3 separate regions of the Homo sapiens genome follow, and all the other regions are linked to region 2. The links come from fine-mapping of genetic effects on gene expression. A gene starts in region 2. Each other region holds a variant in brackets. All regions are shown on one strand. Distances are between the middles of the regions. Region 1 overlaps CDC14B (cell division cycle 14B). Region 2 holds the start of HABP4 (hyaluronan binding protein 4). Region 3 overlaps SLC35D2 (solute carrier family 35 member D2).

Evidence for each region. PIP is the estimated chance that this variant, and not a neighbour inherited with it, causes the effect.
Region 1: its variant is fine-mapped to the expression of HABP4 in whole blood (INTERVAL, PIP 0.99).
Region 3: its variant is fine-mapped to the expression of HABP4 in whole blood (INTERVAL, PIP above 0.99).

Annotation. Positions count from the first base shown.
Region 1 is chr9:96,514,612-96,522,795 of GRCh38, forward strand. CDC14B (cell division cycle 14B) reads right to left here. Exons shown (of 14, transcript NM_033331.4): 12 at 7,895-7,992. Among named protein-coding and RNA genes, the nearest start is that of HABP4, 69 kb to the left of the region's middle. RefSeq lists an enhancer at 7,792-8,184. The variant A/G (reference allele first, on the strand shown) is at 3,528.
Region 2 is chr9:96,445,615-96,453,798 of GRCh38, forward strand. It overlaps HABP4 (hyaluronan binding protein 4), which reads left to right and starts at 4,555. Exons shown (of 8, transcript NM_014282.4): 1 at 4,555-5,014. The coding sequence starts at 4,666. RefSeq lists an enhancer at 3,973-4,052 and silencers at 4,333-4,872, 4,883-4,942, 5,023-5,072.
Region 3 is chr9:96,321,319-96,329,502 of GRCh38, forward strand. It overlaps SLC35D2 (solute carrier family 35 member D2), which reads right to left. Exons shown (of 12, transcript NM_007001.3): 10 at 2,773-2,851; 11 at 680-762; 12 at 1-23. SLC35D2-HSD17B3 (SLC35D2-HSD17B3 readthrough) reads right to left here. Exons shown (of 26, transcript NR_182427.1): 10 at 2,773-2,851; 11 at 680-762; 12 at 1-23. Among named protein-coding and RNA genes, the nearest start is that of HSD17B3, 23 kb to the left of the region's middle. The variant G/C (reference allele first, on the strand shown) is at 3,617.

The DNA.
Region 1 (8,184 bases), 69 kb after region 2:
TTTCTTTGGAAGAGATCTTGCAAGGAACTTTTGCATTCTTTCATAACTTCCAAGTCCAAGAGGAGACAAGAGAAGAAATTCTTAAAATATGAGTTAAGGAAAAAGCTTCAGAGAAGGAAGAACGCAGCTCAGACACAGAAGGGTGGCGGTGGACCCCGTGACACGGACACACCCGCCTTCTGGGGGTCTTCAACATGCTGTTCCACAAGTGGGCCTCTTGTACATTCTTCTGCAGAAATAAAGCCTCTTCGCTGTTAAGGTCTTCATTTCAAAGATGAAAGATCTCAAGAGAATACAGATTTGCTGCTATTAGCCTATTAAAGGCATTCTGGCTATGTCTGGGCAAGGAGAAAAGCAGGAACAATGACCATCATATGGAAATGCACCAATTTAAACAGGCGACCTCAGCTCCGACCTCCTACTTTCATTTAGCATCAAGTGCTACACACTGTACTTACTGTATTCCCTAAAGGGGAGGAGGAAAATGAGACAGAGCAGGAAATTCTGCACACTAAAGAGAGAAGACTTATGAGAGAGCTGCTGTACAATGGCAGATTTCGAGGCTACAAAATCACATATTTAATGAAAGTAGATCAGTGGGAAAAATGCTTCTTTGCTAGACTGGGAAGGACATACTCAAGATACAGAAAACTAGAGGGAAATTGTATAGCCAACTGACGAAAATAAAACCACCCCAATTATCCTAAGCTAACTACTTTTGATAGGGAAGAAAAACTGTTTCAGTGAAGAAAAACTGTTTCAGTGTCTTTATCAACTGCTATTTTGAAATATGTTAAGGATAAGCATAACTTTAAAACAACGTATGTTACTTTCAATATCCTTTCTATGAGAGGAACAGTGAAGCCCACCTTCCCTCCCCACCACCATCCCATTAATTGAAAAGATTCAGAAAAAGAACCTTTGAAAATAGGCAAACCAACAAAGCTAGGAGCTGACAAGGAGAAAAACATGCATTGTGGGAACCACACTAGGCACCAGAAGTAAGCAACGGCAGAGAAACAGAACGGGACACTTACAGCAGCTATCTGTCAGGGGGTCCTGATGGCTACTGTGTTCTGAAACCATCGAGACAGAATAGCAGGATGGGAAGAATGTAGTCACAAACAATCCACCAGATGACAACACTACACAGTGCAGAGGTCAGCACAGCTAGGGGACATCTGGAAAGGGGTGAAGGGGAAAGAACAGATGTTCAAATTGGGAAGCCAAAATAAATTACGCAATCATCAATCAATCAAGCCATATGTGAATTTTAGACACCCTAAAAGCCCAGCCAACAGCAACAGGGATACAAAGGGGTGGTCAACAAGGATGGAGTTTTGCCATTTTATGTTGAATAAAAAAATGCTGTGTTTAAACAGGTTTCATACTTTGGGACTCAGTCACTAGTGAGATAACTACCCCATGTTAATTTAACTTTATGATACTGAAATCAGTCACAGATAAATGATTGAGGTTCTTCAAAAAGCAGAAGATGTGCACACACAGAAAACTAAAGCAAACCACAAGGGGCAAAGGAGGCAAAACCAGATAACCAAAAACAAACAAACAAAAAAACACAAAACCCCAGACTAGTTAACAAAATCACAGGAGGCACAACTAAAAATGAACGTAATACAGCAGAACTGATCTCACTTCAAGGGAGTTACTAACTCCTGAGCCATCCAGGAAGCTAAGGGAATGGCACATTTTTATAATATGGTTCACATTTAACCCAGGGCAACACAAAATGAGCAAAATTTCACTTAGGTATGCATACTATAGACTTTTCTTAGTTGTTTTCCACACTCATTTTCCTCATACTAGTTGGCTTTCAGCTTGGTGTTTCTTTCTTATTTTTTATTTTTTAATTATTATAATTTTTTGAGATGGAGTCTTGCTCTGTCACCCAGCCCGGAGTGCAATGGCGTGATTTTGGCTCACTGCAACCTCCGCTTCCCAGGTTCAAACAATTCTCCCACTGCAGCCTCCTGAGTAGTTGGGATTAGAGGCGCACATCACCACGCCCGGCTAAGTACTGTATTTTTAATACAGGGTTTCACCACGTTGGCCAGGCTGGTCTCAAACTCCTGATCTCAGGTGATCCGCCTGCCTCAGCATCCCAAAATGCTGGGATTATAGGCGTGAGCCATCGCACCTGAGCTCTATTTTATTATTTATTTATTTAATTTTTTTTGAGATGGAGTTTCACTCTTGTCGCCCAGGCTGGAGTGCAGTGGTGTGATCTCGGCTCACTGCAACCTCCCCCTCCCGGGTTCAAGCAATTCTGCCTCAGCCTCCCAAGCAACTGGGATTACAGGCATGTGCCACCATGCCCAGCTAATTTTGCATTTTTAGTACAGATGGGGTTTCTCCATGTTGGTTAGGCTGGTCTTGAACTCCTGACCTCACCCTGCCTCTTTTTTATTTTTAAGAAACAGGGGTCGGCCGGGCGCAGTGGCTCATGCCTGTAATCCCAGCACTTTGGGAGGCTGAGGCAGGTGGATCACCTGAGGTCAGGAGTTCGAGACCAGCCTGGCCAACATGGTGAAACCCCGTCTCTACTAAAAAAATACAAAAATTAGCCAGACGTGGTGGCATATGCCTGTAATCCCAGCTACTCGGGAAGTTGGGGCAGGAGAATTGCTTGAGCTCGGGAGGCGGAGGTTGCAGTGAGCCGAGATCATGCCACTGCACTCTAGCCTGGCCGACAGAGCGAGACTCTGTCTCAAAAAATAAAAAAAATAAAAAAAAATAAAGGCCGGGCGTGGTGGCTCACACCTGTAATCCCAGCACTTTGGGAGGCTGAGGCGGGCGGATCACGAGGTCAGGAGATCAAGACCATCCTGGCTAACATGGTGAAACCCCGTCTCTACTAAAAATACAAAAAATTAGCCGGGCGTGGTGGCAGGCACCACGCTACTCGGGAGGCTGAGGCAGGAGAATGGCATGAACCTGGGAGGTGGAGCTTGCAGTGAGCCAAGATTGCGCCACTGCACTCCAGCCTGGGCGACAGAGCAAGACTCCGTCTCAAAAAAAAAAAAAAAAAAAAAGAAGAAGAAAGAAAGAAAGAAACAGGGGTCTTGCTCTGTTGCCCAGGCTGGAGTGCAGTGGCGTTATCATAGTTCACTGTAACCTCCAACTCCTAGGCACAAGCAATCCTCCCACATCAGCCTCCTGAGTAGCAGCTGAGACTGCCTGTTCATGCCACCATGCCCAGTTTTTTTTTTTTATTTTTTTTGTAGAGACAGAATCTCACTATGTTGGCCAGGCTGGTCTCGAACTCCTGGGCTCAAGTGATCCTGCTGCCTTGAACTCCCAAAGCACTGGGATTACAGGCATGAGCCACTGTGTCCAGCCTCAGCTTGGTGTTTCTTAATCCATTGGTCTGGGTTCTAGCAGTGAGGAAGGAAACCTCCTCCCATTTGGAAGGGCAGAAGCTCTTTCCAATGACTATACTTCCAAATGGTCACCTGGATACATCTGTGACCAAATATTAGAGCCTCTACTGAGCATCTGCTGTGTGC[A/G]GAGTACTGCTAATCAATTTGGAAATGGCTGATTTGGCTTATCATGTCATTTTTATTGTTGACCTCATCACTGTCATCATTAAAAATTACATGTCAGGCCAGGCGCAGTGGCTCACGCCTGTAATCCCAGCACTTTAGGAGGCTGAGGCGGGCAGATCACGAGGTCAGGAGTTTGAGACCAGCCTGGCCAACACGGTGAAACCCCATCTCTACTAAAAATACAAAAATTAGCGAGGCGTGGTGGCGTGTGCCTGTATTCCCAGCTACTCAGGAGGCTGAGGCAGGAGAATCACTTGAACCCATAAGGTGGAGGTTGCAGTGAGCCAAGATTACGCCACTGTACCCCAGCCTGGGTGACAAAGCAAGACTCTGTCTCGGGGAAAAAGAAATTACATGCCAGGCATCCTATATTGTGGAAAGGGATTAGACTAAAGGGTGAACTCGAAATACAGCCTAACCTTACCCCACAAGTTATACCCACACCATCTTATTTAATCTTCCCACAAAAAAAACAAGCTACTAATATACATAAAGATCACAGGGGTGAATATTTAAATGGAATGAATAAATGGTCTGGGAGCCCTAGAGAACTCTCTACCGATCCCAGCCTTCACCTTCAGTTCCTTAAAGGCAGAATGGCCCGAATGTCCAAGTGTCAGCATTATAGATGGTTACTTTTTCCTCTAGTAAACCTCATGGCTTAAGAATTATTTTCCGGCCGGGTGCAGTGGCTCACACCTGTAATCCCAGCACTTTGGGAGGCCAAGGTGGGCAGATCACGAGGTCAGGAGATCGAGACCATCCTGGCTAACACAGTGAAACCCTGTCTCTACTAAAAATACAAAAATTTAGCCGGGCGTGGTGGTGGGCGCCTGTATTCCCAGCTACTTGGGAGGCTGAGGCAGGAGAATGGCATGATCCCAGGAGGCGGAGCTTGCAGTGAGCCGAGATCGCACCACTTTACTCCAGCCTGGGCGACAGGGCGATACTCTGTCTCAAAAATAAAAATAAAAAATAAAAATAAAAAAAGAATTATTTTCCATTGCTAACAGATATACTCATCTCCAAACCTACCAAAACCATCAGTATGCAGAACGACAGGCCTCATGGCTCAAGTTATGCAATCTACCAAATCCATTTTAGCACAGACAATATACTTGTCATCACGTCCTGAAGATCAGCTCAATGTCATGGTGCCACATGGTTTCCTGTCATCATTGTAGTCAGGATCAGACAGGCTGAGCAAATGGCCATTTTATAATCACTAAAAACTTAAACTCTCCCCCAAAACTGACCATTTATAAAAGAGAAACCGGCCAGGCGCCGGTGGTTCATGCCTGTAATCCTAGCACTTTGGGAGGCTGAGGTGGGTGTACCACTTGAGGTCAGGATTTCGAGACCAGCCTGGCCAACATGGTGAAACCTTGTCTCTACTAAAAATACAAAAAATTAGCTGGGTGTGGTGGTGCATAATCCCAGATACTCCGGAGGCTCAGGCAGCAGAATCACTTGAACCTGGGAGGCAGAGGTTGCAGTGAGCCGAGGGCACACCATTGCACTCCAGCCCGGCCAACAGAGCAAGACTCTGTCTTAAAAAAAAAAAAAAAAAAAAAAAGAGAAACCAATCATTGGAATAATATTTTATGTACTATAACCTTCTCCTAAGAATCACTAGTACTTGTGTATTTCTCACTAACTTTCCTTCTTGCATGTACTGTATTTTCATAAGGCTAAGTGCCAATGCTAAAGCAAAATAACTTGCTCACAGAAATCAATGAGTCAAACTTGGATGAAGAAATTGATTTTGTATTTTTCAACCCAAGCAACTGTTGAGAACAGTCCCTCAGGGACTTCTATTCCTAAAATAACAACATAGACACAAGAGGGAAAGAAAGAAAATCTTCAATTGATCTTTTCTAGGGCCAAAAAACTGCAAATAATAGCAGAGAGGGTTTGAAAAAGCAGAGACGGGGATAAGCAAAATGTTGTAAGGGAGGAGGAAGGAGATTTGCTGAGACTCATCAAAAATCCCCTCGGGTCTATACACATAACTCAGAGCTTAGAAAAACTAGCATTTCGCTTTCTTCTTTAAAAGTGTGGCCTAAAACTTTGTTATTTGTGTTATGTGGGGCTATTTATATATATTGTTTTTGGGATATTACCAAAAGGAATCCTGAGCTACCTCTTTGTTTTTTAACTTTTACCATTGTACTTGATTTTACTTATTTATTTAGACAGGGTCTCACTCTGTCACCCAGGCTGGATGCAGTGATCATGGCTCACTGCAGCCTCAGACTCCTGGGCTCAAGTAGTCCTGTTGCCTCAGCCTCCCGCATAGCCTGGTCTACAGGTGCGCACAGCCACGCCCAGCTAGATTTGAACTCACGTTAATGAGAGTAGCAGATTCAGAGGGTGACTAAAGGAAATTTCCTATTTAACAAAAACTTTTGACTAAGCAGGATTTGTATCCCCTGACTCTCAACTTGACTTTTGAACAGCAGGCAACAAAATATTAAAACATAAACTGATGATGCTGATTCTGAAAAACAAAACAAAAAATCCCAGACACAGCTAAAATCAACCCACAAAAGCATCAGTTTCCTAGGGCTTGCAATTCAATGTGTGGTCCCTGGACCAGCAGCCTCGGATAGAAATGTGAACTCTTGGGCCCCACCCCCACCCCACCAATCATAACCCATATTTCAACAAGCGCCCGGGTGCCTCCTGCACACTGAAGTCTGAGAAGCACTGCTCGAGGGTGCTGCCTGCCTCCTCCACCACATCCAGAATTAGTATCTGGATGATTACCTGGAGCCACCATAATACTTCCAAAGAAAAACCATTAAGGCCTTAGGTGAAGACTTTTAATAAGGAAATTAAAAACAAAATGGCATTTGGAGTTAAGTAAATTATACAAAGGCACTATTTTTGTTTGTTTGTTTGTTTTTTGAGATAGAGTCTCACTCTGTCACCCAGGCTGGAGTGCAATGGCACGATCTCGGCTCAATGCAATCTCTGCCTCCCGGGTTCAAGCGATCCTCCTGCCTCACCCTCCCGAGTAGCTGGGATCCTATAATGCCTACAGCTCCCACCATCATGCCCGGCTAGTTTTTGTATTTTTGTAGAGACGGGGTTTCACCATATTGGCCAGGCTGGTCTTGAACTCCTGACCTCAGGTGATCTGCCCACCTTGGCCTCCCAAAGTGCTGGGATTACAGGCATGAGCCACCACACCTGGCCAAAAGGCACCATTTTTAAAAAAGTATAGTTGACTAAAGTACCACTAAGTTGCAAAAGAAATGCTTAATAAATGCCTATAATCAAAATGGATGCCCTACATTCATTCACATAACACTGCATATTGTAAAACTCAATTCTTTGCCTTGGGTCTTTTAAGAAGAACCTCCCAGGGGAGCAACCCATAATGACACATGCCTTAGGTGTAATTCTACTTCAGAATTTTTATGACGAGACACTAGTGAGGAATTACTTTTAATTGAAAAGAAAACCTGTTCTCTGCCAATATAAATGGTATATTATATCATACTTCCTTACCATATTACAAGATGCTTACTGAATAAATGATCTATGTCCATCACACTCCCTCCCCGCAAAAAAGAAGGCTGGAAATCTGGTGTCCCACAATGAAAAAGGAAGTAACTAGAAGGAAGAAATCCAATGGCAACAAGTGGGAGCATTTACTAAAGAACAGCCTACAAAAAATACCATGGTCATGTACTTTGCTTCTGCATATTTTTCTAACAATCTTGGATGCTCCATCAGGTTGAATCCCAACTAACACACATTCACAAGAATGTACACATAGACATACATACACTCAGTACTACAACATTTCCTATTCTCAGGCTAAATCTTCCTCTATAATTAGAAAATCATTCCCCAAAGAAACAAACGAAAAACCCAAAATATAGTTTAGACCAGTTCATTGTTGCCCCAAAACAACATAATGTCATTAAGCCATCATGTCATGCTTATCAAAACAAATGATCTGCAACATGGCAAATGTAAAGAAATACACCACTTTAGTAACTATGGACAAGTCTGGCATCCTGGGCTTTACATCTGCTGTCGCGCTCCTGAGGATGCCCCATGCTGATTATTCATGGAGAAAAAGTATCCCTGATGTCGCCTTCCCACCCATAAAGGCTCATGAGGACCAAGGTAAACAAGGGACAGCTGAGAGCTTCCAAGGCCAGCACCCCTAGGTTTTAAATAACATAGGCAAGCATTTCAAAGTGGCATCATGGGCTTGCAACTATGGAGAAAAATGTACAGGAAAAACCCTCACCAAGGACCCCACACACATATGAAGAAACATCAACCACAACAAAGGAACCCAGACTCACGTGAGAGGAATAGCGTTTGTTTTGGATTGTCTTCTGCTTTTCAAGGCCCGAAGTCTATCACCTTGTGTCACTCCATTGATTTCGTCATCATCACTGTACTGTGTAAGTAAAAAAACACTGAGCTAATGATTTAAGTTGCACTTATTAATGCAGTACAGCAGAGCAGCAATTTATCCACATGAACACAGTCCAAGTTTCTGCAAGCTCTAGAATATTTTTCCCTTTCACAATCAAGCTTCAGGTGACATTTTAAGACAGCCAAAGTTGACTTTCAGAGACAACACAGCAGC
Region 2 (8,184 bases):
GAGGCAAGCAAATTGCCTGAGCTCAGGAGTTCCAGGCTGGTCTGGAATTTCTGGAGCGAATCACTGTTCCTGGTAGATTTTTTTTTTTTTTATTGAGCCAACAAAGTCCTTGGTTTTACTTATTCCAGATGGGTTTTCTGTTGCTCACAACTTGAAGGATCTAGAATAAATGAGGAAATAAAAAGTTCTAAATCCCCAATTATTTATTTGGCCTTGATTAAAGTTACAACTAGAGATCAAACTTTTAATAGTAGGAATGGGAGAGAATAAAAATTTCTATTGGCACAATTGCTTTGAGTATACAAAGCACTAAGCTATCCAGTAACCTTTTGTCATAAGAAGGCAAGTTGGAAAGACCCTCAATGACACCAAGAATACAAATATTATTAGCAGGTTGGGGAAATTATTTCATGATTTAAACATTGTGTATCTGATCATCATGAATGGATTTCCGCTTGCTAGAAGTTCTTCTGGTGCATCCTGATTGTTAACTAATGGTTTATGGTTCTACAACTCCTGACTTTGAGCCTATGTACTTGCTACTTGCTTTATTCATTTGTTGTGGGAAACTGAATTTGAACTCACTTATCACCCTTAGAATAGTGAAACCAGGAACTATTATGTAACTTCATTGATCCTGTCATAATTGACTCAACTGGCATAAAAGATCAGATCCTCTTAGAGTTAGGAAAAATACTTTTGTTTTTGCATATATTATGCAAGTAGAAACAATTATAAAATAGTGAGATTTATTTTTACCTTTTTCAATTGACTTCTTTGGTCTTGTCTTCCATTCAACTATATGAAGAATGCAAGACAGGTTATAATCATCCTAACTTTAGGGACAAGAAAAAGGTAAGGAGAGAGAGAGCAGGAATTCAGCGGCAAAACAGAGCAGATTGAATGCAGTGCTTTGGTAATTAACAAGAACTCACATCCTCGCCAGCCTGACCTGGCCTCTCCTCCTTGGCTCTCACCCAGGTGTTGCTCCCTGCATGTAATTGAAAGTAATGAAGCTACATGTGTCTAAACTCTCAATTAATGGTTCTGTGAATTCCAAGTCAATCTGGAAGATGTTAGTGTATTTTATTATTCCTAATGGGACTCCTCTATTAAGTAATTCAAGGTAATTTACATCTTGTATACAGTTAAGTTTCACTGCATTTCCATTGGTGGTAATAAATAACCACTGGAATATATATAATAATCATGGAAGGGCTGGTAGTATTATTCAGCATCCACACTTCACAGCATTTTTGATGTGCTTTGTTTTTCCATGCTATAAGATGTGTGTTATTGTTTGGTATTATGATTACTAAAAGCTGTTTTCATATATCAGATTATGAAAAAGATCAGTCTATTAAACTGACCACATTAAACACAATGTGTGAATAACTTATGCTAATGTGGTAGAGTTGTATTTTAGGAATGCATTTAAGGATGCAATCTCCTAGAAGAAAAAACAATCAGTAAAAAATATGAGGGTGCTTAACCTTACTCTCAGTAAATTGTGCAGTAGTCAATAGCCCCGTAAGAAACTCATGGCCATGGCCGGGCACGGTGGCTCACACCTGTAATCCCAGCACTCTGGGAGGCTGAGGTGGACAGATCACTTGAGTTTGAGAGCAGCCTGACCAACGTGGTGAAACCCTGTCTCTGCCAAACACACACACACACACACACACACACACACACACACACACACACACAAAGAAAAAAAAGAAAAAAAAGAAACTTGTGGCCATCTAATACCAGGTAAGGATTACTCATCTCTATTTCAGTTCTAAAGATGTTCTGAATCCTGAAGCAACGAGAGTTGGTTCTCTTACAACCATTTGGGGCATTTGTGACTTGGAAATGAGGCGGCAGTGCTCACAGGGCATGCTTTAAGAACTTACAGTGGCTGGTTATGCTGTAAGGAAGATAAGAAGAAAACAGGGGAGCAGGCTAACTCCAGATGCCCAGTGGGAAGACGACAGGCCCTTCTCTCACATGATCATGATTCCTTGGTGTTGTGGTTTGGTGATGAGCAGTTTAAAGATACCAAAGATAACTTTAGCTTGAAGCAGTGCTTCTCAAAGTGTGGTCTCTGTTGCATGTAGTGATTCTGGTTCATTGAGATAAATTTACTATTTTTACTCTGGTTCATTAAGATAAATTTACTATTTTTACAAAAAATTTACTATTTTTACTAAATTTTACACAAAATTTACTATTTTTACAATTTTAAAGTGTACAACTCAGTGACATTTACTAAATTTACAATTTTGTGCAACCATCTCCACTATCTCGTTCCAGAACATTTCATCACCCCACAGGAAACTCCCATGCCCATTAAGCAGTTACTTTCCAACACTCCCAACCCCCACACCTGGTGACCACCAATCTGCTTTCTGTCTCTATAGATTCTGGACATTTCATATAAATGGAATCATACAACGTGTGGCCCTTTTTGTCCGTCTTTCACTTAGCACAATGTTTTCAAGTTTCATCCCTGTTGTAACAAGTATCAATACTTCCTTTTTGACCAAATAATATTTTTTGTACCACATTTTATTTATCCATTCATCGGGTGACATGTATATTATTTGTTTCTGTCTTTTGGCTATTGTGAATAGTGCTGCTATGAATACTCATGTACAAGTTTTGGTTTGAACACTTGCTTTTAATTCTTTTGGGTAGAAAGCGTAGGCATTAATCTTTGCTCACTCAAAAGGAGATGACCAAATATCTTAAATTCTTCAATCATTCAACAAATATTTACTGAAAACCTACTCTATAGCTGCTTAGAACGCCAAGCACTGGGAATACATACTGCAGTGAATAAGACAGGCATCATCCCTGTCCTCCTTGGGAATAACACAAAATTCAATAAGTGAGTAACACACAGACTTTACAGCATTTAGGATTAGGAATTCCTTTGCTATTAAGGAAAGTAAAAGCTGGTCACAGAGCACCTGGCAAGATGCTCTAACTGGATGCTTTCGGATGAAACAAGCAAACACAACTAAGCGCAATCACATCTGTCACCTTACATCATAAGCCTCAAGTAGGGAGGTTCCCAAGTGGGTCCAGTCGGCAGCTCAACCTCATCAAGGATCTAGCCTTTCTCTATCCTGCTCTGCCATCCTCATGGCCACGCTAAGGAACAGCCACCCGAGGCATCATGTCTTCTCATGGAACAAAGACCAGGGAACAGAAGGGGGGGAGATCCCTTCTCAATCCCTTGTTAGGTGCAAGAAAAACTTTCCCAGAATACTTCTCAGATCTGTTCTGCCCGATTTGCCCCACAGCCTATTCCTAAGCCAATTACTGGCAAGGAATTGGAATCAGGTGCAATGAATAATGTATGATTAATCAAGTTTGAGGCTGGAAGGGGCCCTCTTCCCCTGGGGAATATGATGCCTGAACAAAATACAGGCTCTGGAAAAATGTAAGAGGGAAAGAACGGCTGTAGGATAGGCAGCCAAGCGTGTCTCCACCGCTGCCTATGCAAAGATTTCCTGGAGGAAGTCCAGTCCGGCGTTCTCTAAGCTCCAGGCCTCAACTGAATATCTCAAAAGAAAACAAATATCCAAACCTCAACGTGTCCCAGACTGAATTAATGATTCCCGTTAAAGTAGTGTCTTCCAGTGGTAACTAATACTATCATTCAGATGCTGGAGCCAGGAAAATAAGAGTCACCGTATCTTCTTCTCCCTCATCACCACCTCTAGCGCATCACCAAGTCTTTGAATCCATCTACTCTCTTCGCCTCCACCGCCACCATCCTAATCCCAGTCACTATCAACTCTTCCCTGGAGCTTTGCAACAATCATGTTTGGCTTCCCAGCATCCATTTGTATTTCCCTCCAAACTATTAGTTCACAGTGCAGGTAGGGTGGCCTTTTCAAACCCAAATCTGCTCATGCTCAAAACTTGCTTCCCACTGCTCTTAGAATAGAGACCACTTTGAGCTTGAATAGGCTGTGCACATCCCACCTCAAGACTGCTGCACTTGCTGTTCCTCCTCCAACCCCTTGTCACCCCTCTCCCTCGGCTTAACTGTCATTTCCCAATTAGGTCAGATCCCTTTGCTGCAGCCCGTAGAGAGCTCTGCGCCTGTCCTTCAGGGCACTTTTTCTCCATCTACAGACTCAGATCTGTGACAACACGGAGCTAGTATTTCCTACAACATAATGCCTGGCACACGGTAAGTGCGCAATATGTAGCTGTTGCACGGCTAAATGTATACATAAGCTTCAAAGCAGAGTGGCCCATAGCAAATACGGTCGCAGTCCCGGGAGAAAGCACACACAGCCGAGACCCCACCGCTTCGTCGGCGCCGCCTGGACCAGCCAGTAGCTCCGCCCCTGGGCCCCGCCCCTCCCTGCTGAGCGAACGGGGCGGGGCCCAGAGGTCGCGTGACGTGACAGCAGCCGGTCGGTGATTGGGTCTCCAGGCGCGCCGTGTCGGAAAGGGGGCGCACCCGCGCGCGCTGACTGGCTGTCTGGCGCAGCGGGGCGGACGGCGGCGGCGCCGCGGGGGCGGGCGCCGGTAGGGGCCGGACAGGGTAGGGCCCGGAGGGCGGTGGCGGCGGAGCGGGCGGCATGGGTCCTGGCCGCCGGCTTCGCTGAGACGCGCTCGCGTGGGCTGCCCTCCCGGGCCCGCAGTGGTCGCGGCGGCATGAAGGGCGCTCTGGGGAGTCCCGTGGCTGCCGCTGGCGCCGCGATGCAGGAGAGTTTCGGCTGCGTGGTGGCCAACCGCTTCCATCAGCTGCTGGACGACGAGTCGGACCCGTTCGACATCCTGCGCGAGGCCGAGCGCCGGCGCCAGCAGCAGCTGCAGCGCAAGAGGCGCGACGAGGCGGCGGCGGCGGCCGGGGCCGGTCCCCGCGGCGGCAGGAGCCCAGCCGGGGCCTCGGGCCACAGAGCCGGCGCGGGCGGCCGGAGGGAGTCGCAGAAGGAGCGCAAGAGCCTCCCGGCGCCCGTCGCTCAGCGGCCCGATAGCCCCGGGGGCGGCCTGCAGGCGCCGGGTACGCGGGGACAGCGGGGTTAGCGGACCACGGCTCGGCCCGCTGTGAGACTGGGGTCCCGGGGGCCGGTTTCAGGAGGAGGGGCCCGGGAACAGTAGGGAGAGTTGAGGGTCCTGGTGGCCGCCGAAGGTAGGAGGAGAGGGGCAGGGGTCACACCCCTTCCAGCTCTCGCCAGCCTCGTGCGGGGCTCCGGGGGAAACGCTGGCTTGGGGTGGGATAGGGCCCTCGAACCCTGGCACTGAGGCTCTACGGCAAGTTGGACGAAGTTGAGGGAGGTTGTCTGGGTGGCGTGTGGGGGCGAACGGCTGAGGTCGCTACCCCGGGGCTCCCACATCCAGACCTGGCGGGGACCTTCATCTTCCAGCCCAGCCTCTGCAAGATTGAGGTCGGAGCCACCCGAGAGCGCGGTGGGGAGGAGGAGGGCGCCTGGTCCCGGGGCTGGGGGCCTCTGTGATGCCGGAGGCCTGGGCGACCGCGGGGCGGCCTGTGACGTCGGGGCCCGGGCGGGGGTCCCCGGCGCGGTCCGGCCTGGCGCCTTCGCCCCTTCTCCGTCCGGTAGCTTCCAGGAGGCAGCCGGCATCGTATTTCAGTACTTCGTGTGGTGTTGATGGGATGTGCAACTTATAAATAGCTCAAGGCTGCTTTAAGAAAAGCGTTTTTAACCTTTCCAGCAAGAATATTCGGAGTTCCCCACTCCCTATTTAGCAAGAAAAACCGGTGCGCAGCGTGGTGTCCTGCTGCCTGTGGACGGGGAGGGTGCTTCAGAGTTCATTCTCTCACCGAACTGCGTCAGTGGCAGAGCCAGCAACACTCCACCTGTGTTTCCTGTTTTCTTGAAATGAGGCAGCGGTCCCAAGGTTTGCAGAGTGTTAGGATTAAGATGTGTAGGTTGACCATTCCTGCCGACGTTTGCCAGTGTGTTCAACTTGGCTTTATTGGTTTGTTCCTTGCTTGATAAAAATTGTGCATCGCAGCCCTGAGGAAACGTCTCAGGTTTAAGTATTAGGGCTTTGATGTGCAGCTGGGTAATGTTTACCTTTATTTGTGAAAAGCTAAATCCAGAGTCATCACTTGAGAATCAAGTCACTACAATAAAGATGTTGAAAATGATTTTTAAAAAAATGTTATTTACTATCTCACGACACTTTGGTAGGCCAGTAAATTTCTGAGCCTATCTAAACAGTGAGACTGGAGATACATTGTGCATTTTATATCCTGTTTTTTATCTTTTTCTCTTAAACTTATTTACATCAATATAATAAAGGAATTGAGGAAGGCTAAGCTTTTCTTCACCCTTTATTTTTTAACAAATGAAAATGCCGGGTGTGGTGGCTCACGCCTGTAATCCCAGCAGTTTGGGAGTCCGAGGCGGGCGGATCACGAGGTTAGGAGATCGAGACCATCCTGGCTAACACGGTGAAATCCCGTCTCTATTACAAATACAAAAAATTAGTCGGGCGTGGTGGCGGGCACCTGTAGGTCCAGCTACTCGGGAGGCTGAGGCAGGAGAATGGCGTGAACCCAGGAGGCGGAGCTTGCAGTGAGCCGAGATCGAGCCACTGTACTCCAGTCTGGGAGAAAGAGCGAGACTCCGTCACAAAAAAAAAAAAAAAAAAATTCTGTGCTTCAGAAAAACGTGAGACGAGTTAGTGCTGTTAATACATTGATTTTTAGCCTTTTTAAAATTGTCATGCATTTTTGTGTTAAGAATTTTAAGCAATTCCAAAATGTATGAGGTTAAGTGAAAATCCTCTTATTTTTCCTACTAACACTTTGCATTTATATACATAAATGCACAGAGCTATTTCTTTTCTTTCTAAACTTAAATGATATAAACTGGGTTGCAACCTGTTTCCTGCACTTGATGTTGTCATGTAGTACACTCGTAACTTTTTTTTTCTGTCAGTTGTTAGGTCTAAGTGATCTGGCTTTTGAAATCAACTAAAGGTATTTAGTTGATTTTGTAGTTAGAACGGAAATTTTATCATTCAAGTTCTTTTTCAAGTATGTGTTATTTCAGGAGCAAACAGCTCATTAATTTCCATTTATGTAGTTACTGTACTAAATTTATCTATAATGGGTGTCAAGGAGCTATTCTCTCAAGGTTTTGTAACCCTAGTTGATAAGAAGCACTGTACTTTTCTAACATTCAAAATTTTTTATCTAGTTAGAATGTTGTAAGTGAATGCTTAGTGTAGACAAAAATAAAACATGTTTGACATATCATAGAAATGTTAATCCTGAAAGAATGTGGAAGTCACAAGCTTTTCCTATGGAAAAGGGTTTTTTTTTTTTTTTTTTTTTTTTTTTGAGACAGAGTCTTTTTTTTTGAGACAGGCTGGAGTGCAGTGGCATGATCTCGGTTCACTGCAACCTCTACCTCCTGGGTTCAAGCGATTCTCCTGCCTCAGCCTCCTTAGTAGCTGGCATTACAGGCATCTGCCACCATGCCCGGCTAATTTTTTTTTTTTTTTTTTTTTTGAGACAGAGTGCAGTGGCGGGATCTTGACTCACTGCAACCTCTGCCTCCCCGGTTCAAGCGATTCTCCTGCCTCAGCCTCCTGGGTAGCTGGGACTACAGGCATGCGCCACCATGCCCAGCTAATTTTTGTATATTTTTTAGTAGAGGCATGGGTTCACTATGTTCATGTTGGCCAGGATGGTCTCGATCTCTTGACCTCATGATCTGCTTGCCTTGGCCTCCCAAAGTGCTGGGATTACAGGTGTGAGCTACTGTGCCTGGCCTAATTTTTTATATTTTTAATAGAGATGGGGTTTCACCATGTTGTCCAGGCTGGTCTTGAACTCCTGACCTCAGGTGATCCGCCCGCCTCAGCCTCCCAAAGTGCTGGGATTACAGGCGTGAGCCATGATGCCTGGCCAAAAATGTAGGTTTTTAATGTCTGACTATCTGTCTAGCAATATGTATATAAACCCTTGGGTGAGCCTTGCTCAATAAGTTCATTCTTAAAGTCATGAGAGGCCGTTTCAGTTTTGCTTTTCCTAGCCTTTCAGAATTATGTTCTTTGAAACAAAGGTCAATTTTATTTTGTGGAAAATCTTACTGTAAATTTTATTGTATTCTGTTTCTTTACCTGGGCTTGGTTTAGATGATGATGAATGCATGTGCCAGCCTTTTCTTGGCGAGGTTAGTGAAATGCAGTGCTTGC
Region 3 (8,184 bases), 120 kb before region 2:
AATATCTCAAGCCCCCTGCCATGCTGAAAGGAGAAAAAAAAGTGAAAATAAATGACTGGGAATTTCACAGGGGCTCCAGCAGCAGTTGCTGGCGTTTTTATCAATACACCTGCTTCATGCGGAGGGAATTATTCCAATATCTGTGTTTCTCCTCAAGTTTGTGGATTGCTTGATGAGAATTTCCCCTTATTTACAAGCCTTTGGAGGCAGAAAAAGAGTCATCAAATCTAATGCAGAACCTCAGAGAGAAAATAAGCACTTGGTTTCTACTGAATAAACTACATACCCTTAGCCTTAAATAGTATCCCACTGCTGAGACCCCAAATGCCTTTCAAAGCTGGCTTAGTCCACACCCCCTGCATGCCGAGCCTAGTGGGCACAAAGGTTAACACCCTCCACTTTATAGGAGGAGGGCAGAGAACGCAGGGGCCTGCTGTGAGGAAGACAGGTGAGTTAAATTCCGATCCCAGCCCCGCAAACTGCCATCACACGTGTCCCCATGGATCTGCATGAGGATGAACCCAGTGATGAAGTAAAATTATCTTAGAAATTAGAATGTCAAAACGCCTCCTGGCTTAACGTGAAAGACTTCTCCAGGCTCTTTTGCTTATTACATATTAATCAGAGTGTTTAAGGTTCTTGTCTTCCCAAAGCGAGTCCATTAAAAATTCCCACTCACCAAATATTTAACCCTACAAAGTTTAACAAAGAGAAAATGTAGTCTCCACCGATTAATATCCCAATGTAGGCAACGGATACATTCTGCAGAAAAAGAGAGAGGATTCGTCATTTTAAAAGTAAACTGTTTAGGGGAAAATATAAATAGTAAAACCTGAAACTAGACATTTTAGTTACTTTGCATAGAGACTTGTACATAGGGATATTCACAGGTGGTTGAACAAAATAAAAACCATTACAGGCCAGGAATGATGGCTCACGCCTGTAATCCCAATACTTTAGGAGGCCAAAGTCAAAGGATCACTTGAGCCCAGGAGTTTAAGACCAGCCTGGGCAACATAGTGAGATCCCATCTCTACAAAAAATTTTTTAAAAGTAGCCGGGCATGGTGGCACATGCCTGTAATCCCAGCTACTCCACACGGACTGAAGTGGGAGGATTGCTTGAGCCCAGGAAGTCAAGGCTGCAGTGAGCTACATGCCACTGTACTCCAGCCTGGGCAACAGAGCAAGACCCTGCCTCAGAAAAATAAATAAATAAGCCATTACATATGGGGCTTACTAAATAAATGCAGTAAATTATGGTATGATAACAACAGAAAATTGCATTATTCTCTCTCTTGATCCAGTTGGCATGCAGGCAAAAGAGGAAGAGTGGGGCTGTCATCAGCTTGCCAGGTTCCTATCTCTTTACTATCATTGGGTAGTGAGGTTTTCTGGGGTTTTTTTTTTTTTTTTTTTGAGACAGAGTCTCACTCTGTTGCCCAGGCTGGAGTGCAGTGGCACAATCTCAGCTCACTGCAACCTTTGCCTCCCAGGTTCAAGAGATTCTCCAGTCCAGCCTCCCAAGTAGCTGGGACTACAGGGCACTCACCACCACGCCTGGCTCATTTTTGTACTTTTAGTAGAGATGGTGTTTCGCCATACTGGCCAGGCTGGTCTCTAATTCCTGACCTCAGGTGATCCGCCTGCCTTGGCCTCTCGAAGTGCTGGGATTACAGGCATAAGCCACTGTGCCTGGTTTTTCTTTTTTTTTTTTTTTTTCAACCTTGGGCTCCCACACTACACTGCAATCTGTGGACACAACAGGGCCAAGTAGTGAGTTAATTATCTTGATCGTAAACTTGAGCAGAGTGGAGACAGTCAACAAATTCCAGGCCGTGCTCTGCCCAGTGCATTCTAGGAGACCTCTGGGCACCCAGGGGACAGGTAAACTCTTGAAGCAGGCAGTGTTTTCACACACTCTAGGACTTCATGTGAATAGAAAAATGAAGCAATTATGGAATAGAATCCAGAACACCTCTCCCCCTATTCATTCATGTGCATGTGTGTGTATTCAGATGCATCCACACAAGCAAACACCCACACACCAACCCACCAGCTCATGATCTCACCACACAGCATACACCTCCACAAGGGCTCCACTTCTCAGTGGGCAGGTTCTCCCAGAAAACCAAATTATGGATCACAAGGTATCTTGCTAATCATTGATACCTGGACTGATTTTATTCTTTTTAGCTTTTTACTTCATTTTCCCAGACCCACCCCCTCTGAGCCACCCCCAACTTAAAAGTTATAATTCATCTCTCCTTTATAAATTAGCAATCTGTCCCTCTATTCTATGCAATAGATTAGAAGAAGTAAGACGGGGCCGGGCTCGGTGGCTCACGCCTGTAATCCCAGCACTTTGGGAGGCCGAGGTGGGTGGATCACGAGGTCAGGAGTTCAAGACCAGCCTGGCCAACATGGTGAAACCTGGTCTCTACCAAAAATATAAAAAATTAGCCGGGTGTGGTGGCAGGCGCCTGTAATCCCAGCTGCTCGGGAGGCTGAGGCAGGAGAACCGCTCGAACCAGGGAGGTGGAGGTTGCAGTGAACCAAGATCGTGTCACTGAACTCCAGCCTGGACAACAGAACGAGACTCTGTCTCAAAAAAAAAAAGAAGTAAGATGGGATCACACAGGCCGAGCTGAAAAGGTCACAGCCCTCGTTCTTACACCACCACCAACAACAAAATCAAACCCGGCCTCCCATGGAATATTTGGATTTCCATTCCTTGACTCAGTTGTTCCCTTCCAAGTTTCCATCCACTCACCTTGATGGCTCCAACCACTGCTGTCGTCAGGGCTGAATTGTAATAGCTGCACAGAACCGTGGAGTACATCAGCAGAAACCTGTGACAAGGAAGCAGACACTGGAGTGTGTGCCTCACTACGCTGGGTAATGACAAATAGGTTAAGGCCAGCAGTGACCCCCACACAAGCACTTTAAGCGAAGAAAAAAGAAACACATATCATAAAGGTTTTGTAACCCACATCTTAAGATATGTTGCTATTGGTCTTATGACAGGAAAATGGTCCAGCTGTGAATTAGCTAAACCTTCTACTTAAGGTATCCTTCTCATTTTCTCTGTACATTTCCAATGAATGTTTCCACAACATGGGAGTAAGGAGAACAAGGTTTAATGACCTGAAATCTCTCATTTATCAGCATGTTAAATGAAGTTAAGAATTGGAGTTTTTAATCCTCTGTGCCTCAGAATCGCCTGCTGCACTTTTTTTTTTTTTTTTTGGTGGGGACGGAGTCTCGCTCTGTCACCCAGGCTGCAGTGCAGTGGTGCAATCTCGGCTCACTGCAACCTCCACCTCCTAGGTTCCAGCAATTCTCCTGCCTCAGCCTTCCAAGTAGCTGGGACTACAGGCTCATGCCGCCATACCCAGCTACTTTTTTTTGTATTTTAGTAGAGATGGGGTTTCACCATGTTGCCCAGGCTGGTCTTGAACTCCTGAGCTCAGGCAATCCACCCGCCTTGGCCTCCCAAAGTGCTAGGATTACAGGCGTGAGCCACCGCGCCTGGCCCGCCTGCTGCACTTCCAACACACAACGAACGATGCCTGGCAGAGGTTCTGCTTCACATGGTTTGAGGTGGGGCCCCGACC[G/C]TGCACGATATGAAAGATCCTCAGGTGATTCTGATCTGTAGCCAGAGCAGAGGACCTCTGGTGTCAGAAGAGAAAATCAGCTGAGCGATTGCTGCCTTGGACGGAGGAGATTGAAATAGATTCCACTTGTGGATAATGCTCCTGTAACTGTTACCAAAGTTAACTCAGGCACTTAACATGACCGTAGGTATTGATACTTACTTGCCAATAAAATGACTACAGCCTTGTGGATGAGCGCCAGACAAGAAAACACATACACAGGTAAAGAATGCCAAATCCAGTCAGGTAAAGAAGCGAGCTAATTCCAGTCAAGCAGTGATGGAAATTAGCTGCAACCTCACCTAAGCTGCAACTCAGATCAGATGATGGAATGTTGAAAGGGATTACAAACTGGCTGAGAAAGAAACATGGATGGTACAAGGAGAGTACAAGATGTGTGAGATTTGAAAAGCTAAATCCCAGGTCAGGTTCGGCACGGTGGCTCATGCCCATAATCCCAGCACTTTAGGAGGCAGAGGTGGGTGAATCACCTGAAGTCAGGAGTTCGAGACCAGCATGGCCAACATGGTGAAACCCTGTCTCTACTAAAAATACAAAAATTAGCCGGGCGTGGCGGCACATGCCTGTAATCCCAGCTACTCGGGAGGATGAAGCAGGAGAATTGCTTGAACCCAGGAGGCGGAGCTGAGATCATACCACTGCACTCCAGCCTGGGTGACAGGGCGAAACTCCATTTCAATTAATTAATTAATTAATTAGTCCCAGGTTAAAGGCAGGAACTTGGATTCACCATTGACAGAGAGAAGTGAACTCAACTCTAGCAAAGGGGTTAGTGCACCTGCACTTGGGTAAGCACAGAATTTATTTAATTCTAGAATCCTGCTAGAATTCAACACTCGGTCTTGGTCCTAGGCTCAAATCTCTGGTGAAGATCACAGTCACAAACCTTCAACACGATAACCTCTGTTGGCCTGAGTGTGTTTATTACTAGAGGTGGTAGAGGGAAAAAAATCAGAATATCAAGCTTTACAAGTTGAAGAATAAACTTAACTTCAAACTTAAATTTTGTAATCTTTGCAATACTGTGTGCATTGTAATTAAAACAATTTGAAAAGTTAAAGAAACTCTGTGGTTCTAATTTGAAATATATAATTGATATTAGACTTGCAATTTTAATTTGAAAGAAGAGCGTCGAAGTCTGCATCAGGATTTGAATGTTTTTAAGAAGCTGATTTACCCCATTTCTAAATTTGGTTTATTCTATTTCAAAGAGTTGCTTAAGTACAGAAAGCAATCTACTAGCTTTGTTAATTGGCCTCAGGGGTTGGAATTGCTGAAGAAAAAGTAGGCAGCTCCCATTTGTAAAAACAGTTGAAAATGCTTAAATTCTTTTAATTCACTAAGTTGTAAATGGAACTGATTTACAGTACATTGTTTAGGGGATTTTAATCAGCTAAACTTGAGTTAATAAGCCATTTATCAAATAATGAAAGTAAATGTTCTTTTATAGAAAAATTGTTAGCCTTCTAAATAAGGCAATAATATTTGTAAGTTGAACTTTAAGGCTTAAGAAAAAATCTAAGTTTCGGCCAGGTGTGGTGGCTCACGCCTGTAATCCCAGCAGTTTGGGAGGCCAAGGCAGGCAGATCACAAGGTCAGGAGATTGAGACCATCCTGGCCAACATGGTGAAACCCTGTCTCTAATAAAAATACAAAAAAAATTAGCCAGGCATGGTGGCATGCGCCTGTAATCCCAGCTACTCGGAGGCGCTGAGGCAGGAGAATTGCTTGAGCCTGAGAGGCGGAGGTTGCAGTGAGCCGGGATCGCACCACTGCACTTTAGCCTGGGCAACAGAGCGAGACTCTGTCTCAAAAAAAAAAAAAAAAGAAAATCCAAGTTTCTCAAATTGTTATAATTTTAATAAATCTAACATTAATTTAGATTCCCAGGAGCTATAAATAATCCTATTTATCCATACAATGAAAAAATTAAAAAACTCAAACTGATGCCACTGAGTGCCTGCTCTGCCAGGCCCTGGCTGTCAGAGGGGACCATCCCATCCACAGCACCTGCCCCGGAGCCACTCAGACCCAGATCAGAGGAGAGAGCTGCACAGCAGCGGGAGCACAGCACAGGGCCCAGCCCAACGCAGGGGCAGAGAGGAGCTTCCTGCAGGCCGCCTATGCACCAGCACAGCCTTAAACCAAGGACAGCATGGATGTTCTTTATTTCCACTTTTGCTTTAAAATTCCAACTCCAGGGTTCCAATCATGCAACATTTTCTCCATCCTCCATTTTTCTTTTCTTAAAAAAGGGTTGGGGGGAACCTCATCTCTTGACAAGATCTGGCTATATTACCCAGGCGGGACATGAATGCCTGGGTTCAAGTGATCCTCCCGCCTGTCTTCCAAGTAGCTGGGACTACAGATGTGTGTCGTCACACCCAGCTCCATCTTAGTGAAACCACCTCAGCCTGCATTCAGAATCAGAAGACATCATGGATCTAAGATCCCAGCACCCATCCATCATGAGTGTGGGTGACTAGGACATCACTCACCAGCTGGGCTGAGCCAAGGGAGGAGAATCCCTCCCTAACATTCTGGAGTGAGCCTCAGTGAGCAGCCATCCTCCTTAGCAACAGATGGCGGCTAGATAGAAGGGCTGCACTTCTTTTTTCTTTTTCTTTTTCTTTTTTTTTTTTTTAAAGATGGGGTCTCACTCTTTCGCCCAGGCTGGAGCGCAGTGGTGTGATCATGGTTCACTGCAGCCTCCACCTCCCAGGCTCAAGCAATCCTCCCACCTCAGCCTCTCAAGAAGCTGGGACTACAGGTACACATCACTAAACTTGGCTAATTTTTAAATTTTTTCTAGATACAGAGTCTTGCTATCTTGCCCAGGCTGATCTGGAACTCTGGGGCTCAAGCAATCCTCCCTCTCTGGCCTCCCAAAGTGCTGGGACTATAGGAATTAGTCACCACTCCCAGCTTGCACTTCTTAATATACCCACTAGATGTCCCCAGAGAGGGCAAATATAGAACCACCAGGCTCAAAGTAGCAGTATATTACATTTTTTAAAAGAATCTATTTCTATATGCAAAAAAAACTTGCATAGTTCTTTGGCCAAAACCAAGACTTTGAACTAAAAGAACCTTCGTTAACTCAGTACTCAGTGCAAGGGAAACCTCACCACTTTTATTACTGAAAATATCAACCTCCACATGACTAGCTTTGATTTTACTATCTGTAGATTAATAAAATACAAAGATATTTAAAAGTATTGCTGAATTCTTAGTAACCTTTTTTACCATTCTATATTTTTTAGATAGGGTCTCACTCTGTTGCTCAGGCTGGAGTACAGTGGCACAATCACAACTCACTGGGCTCACATGAGCCCAGCCTCCATCTTCTGGGCTCAGGTGGTCTTCCCACCTCAGCCTCCCAAAGTGCTGGGATTACAGGTGTGAGCCACCACGCCCAGCGTGCTCTGTATTTTGAAGTCATGATATTATCTGTGTACATTTGAAATATAACAGCACATACATCTGATGCACATTTATTCAGACAACAGAGGCCAGCTGAGTGTTCTGCTTCTAGGGCCCCCAGGGTGGAGGTGCCCAAGTAGAAACTCCTGGACCAGAGCCTCTGCTCAAAGCCTTCTTCTTCCTGTTCTAAAAACAGCACAAAAAGTAACTGCCTTACCCAACATTGTGGCAGTCACAAACAGAACTCAAATGACCTAGTTTATACCTTGTCACTGATTACCGTTCCCTGCCCCAACAAATATAGAAACTCAACAAACGTTCAAATATTCACAGGCCACTTTTGCATTCTTTCCACCATCCACAATGGTACCCAAGCACATCATTCTCTTATAATTCCAGATTTCAAAGAATTCCAAGGAACCCCATCCTCACCATCTCTAGGAAGAACTCACTCCTAAGAACTCACAGAGTGCCAGCCTGGACAACATGGTGAAACCCCGTCTCTACTAAAAATACAACAATTAGCTGGGCTTGGTGGCTGGAACCTATAATCTCAGCTACTCAGGAGGCTGAGGCAGGAGAATCGCTTGAACCCAGGAGGCGGAGGTTGCAGTGAGATGAAATCGCGTCACTGCATTCTAGCCTGGGCAAACAGAGTGAGACTCCATCTCAAAAAAAAAAAAAAAAGACATTATTTATGTCTTTTAAAGGACAGAAATTCTACAAGATTGAATAATTTGGCAGGAGACATTTACATATATACACACACACATATACATATATACTTTTATATATATAAATACACACTTTTTTATATATATACTTTTTTTAGAGACAGGCTCTCCCTCTGTTGCCCAGGCTGGAGTGTAGTGGTGCCATCATAGCTCACTGCAGCCTCAAACTCCTGAGCTCAAGCAATCCTCCTGCCTCACCCTCCTGAGTAGCTGGAACTACAAGAACATGCCACCACATTTGCCTAACTTTTTTCTGTAGAAATGAGTTCTCATATGTTGCCCAGGCTGGTCTCAAACTCCTGGCCTCAAGTGATCCTCCCACTCAGCCTCCCAAACAAAGCTTTGGGGCTA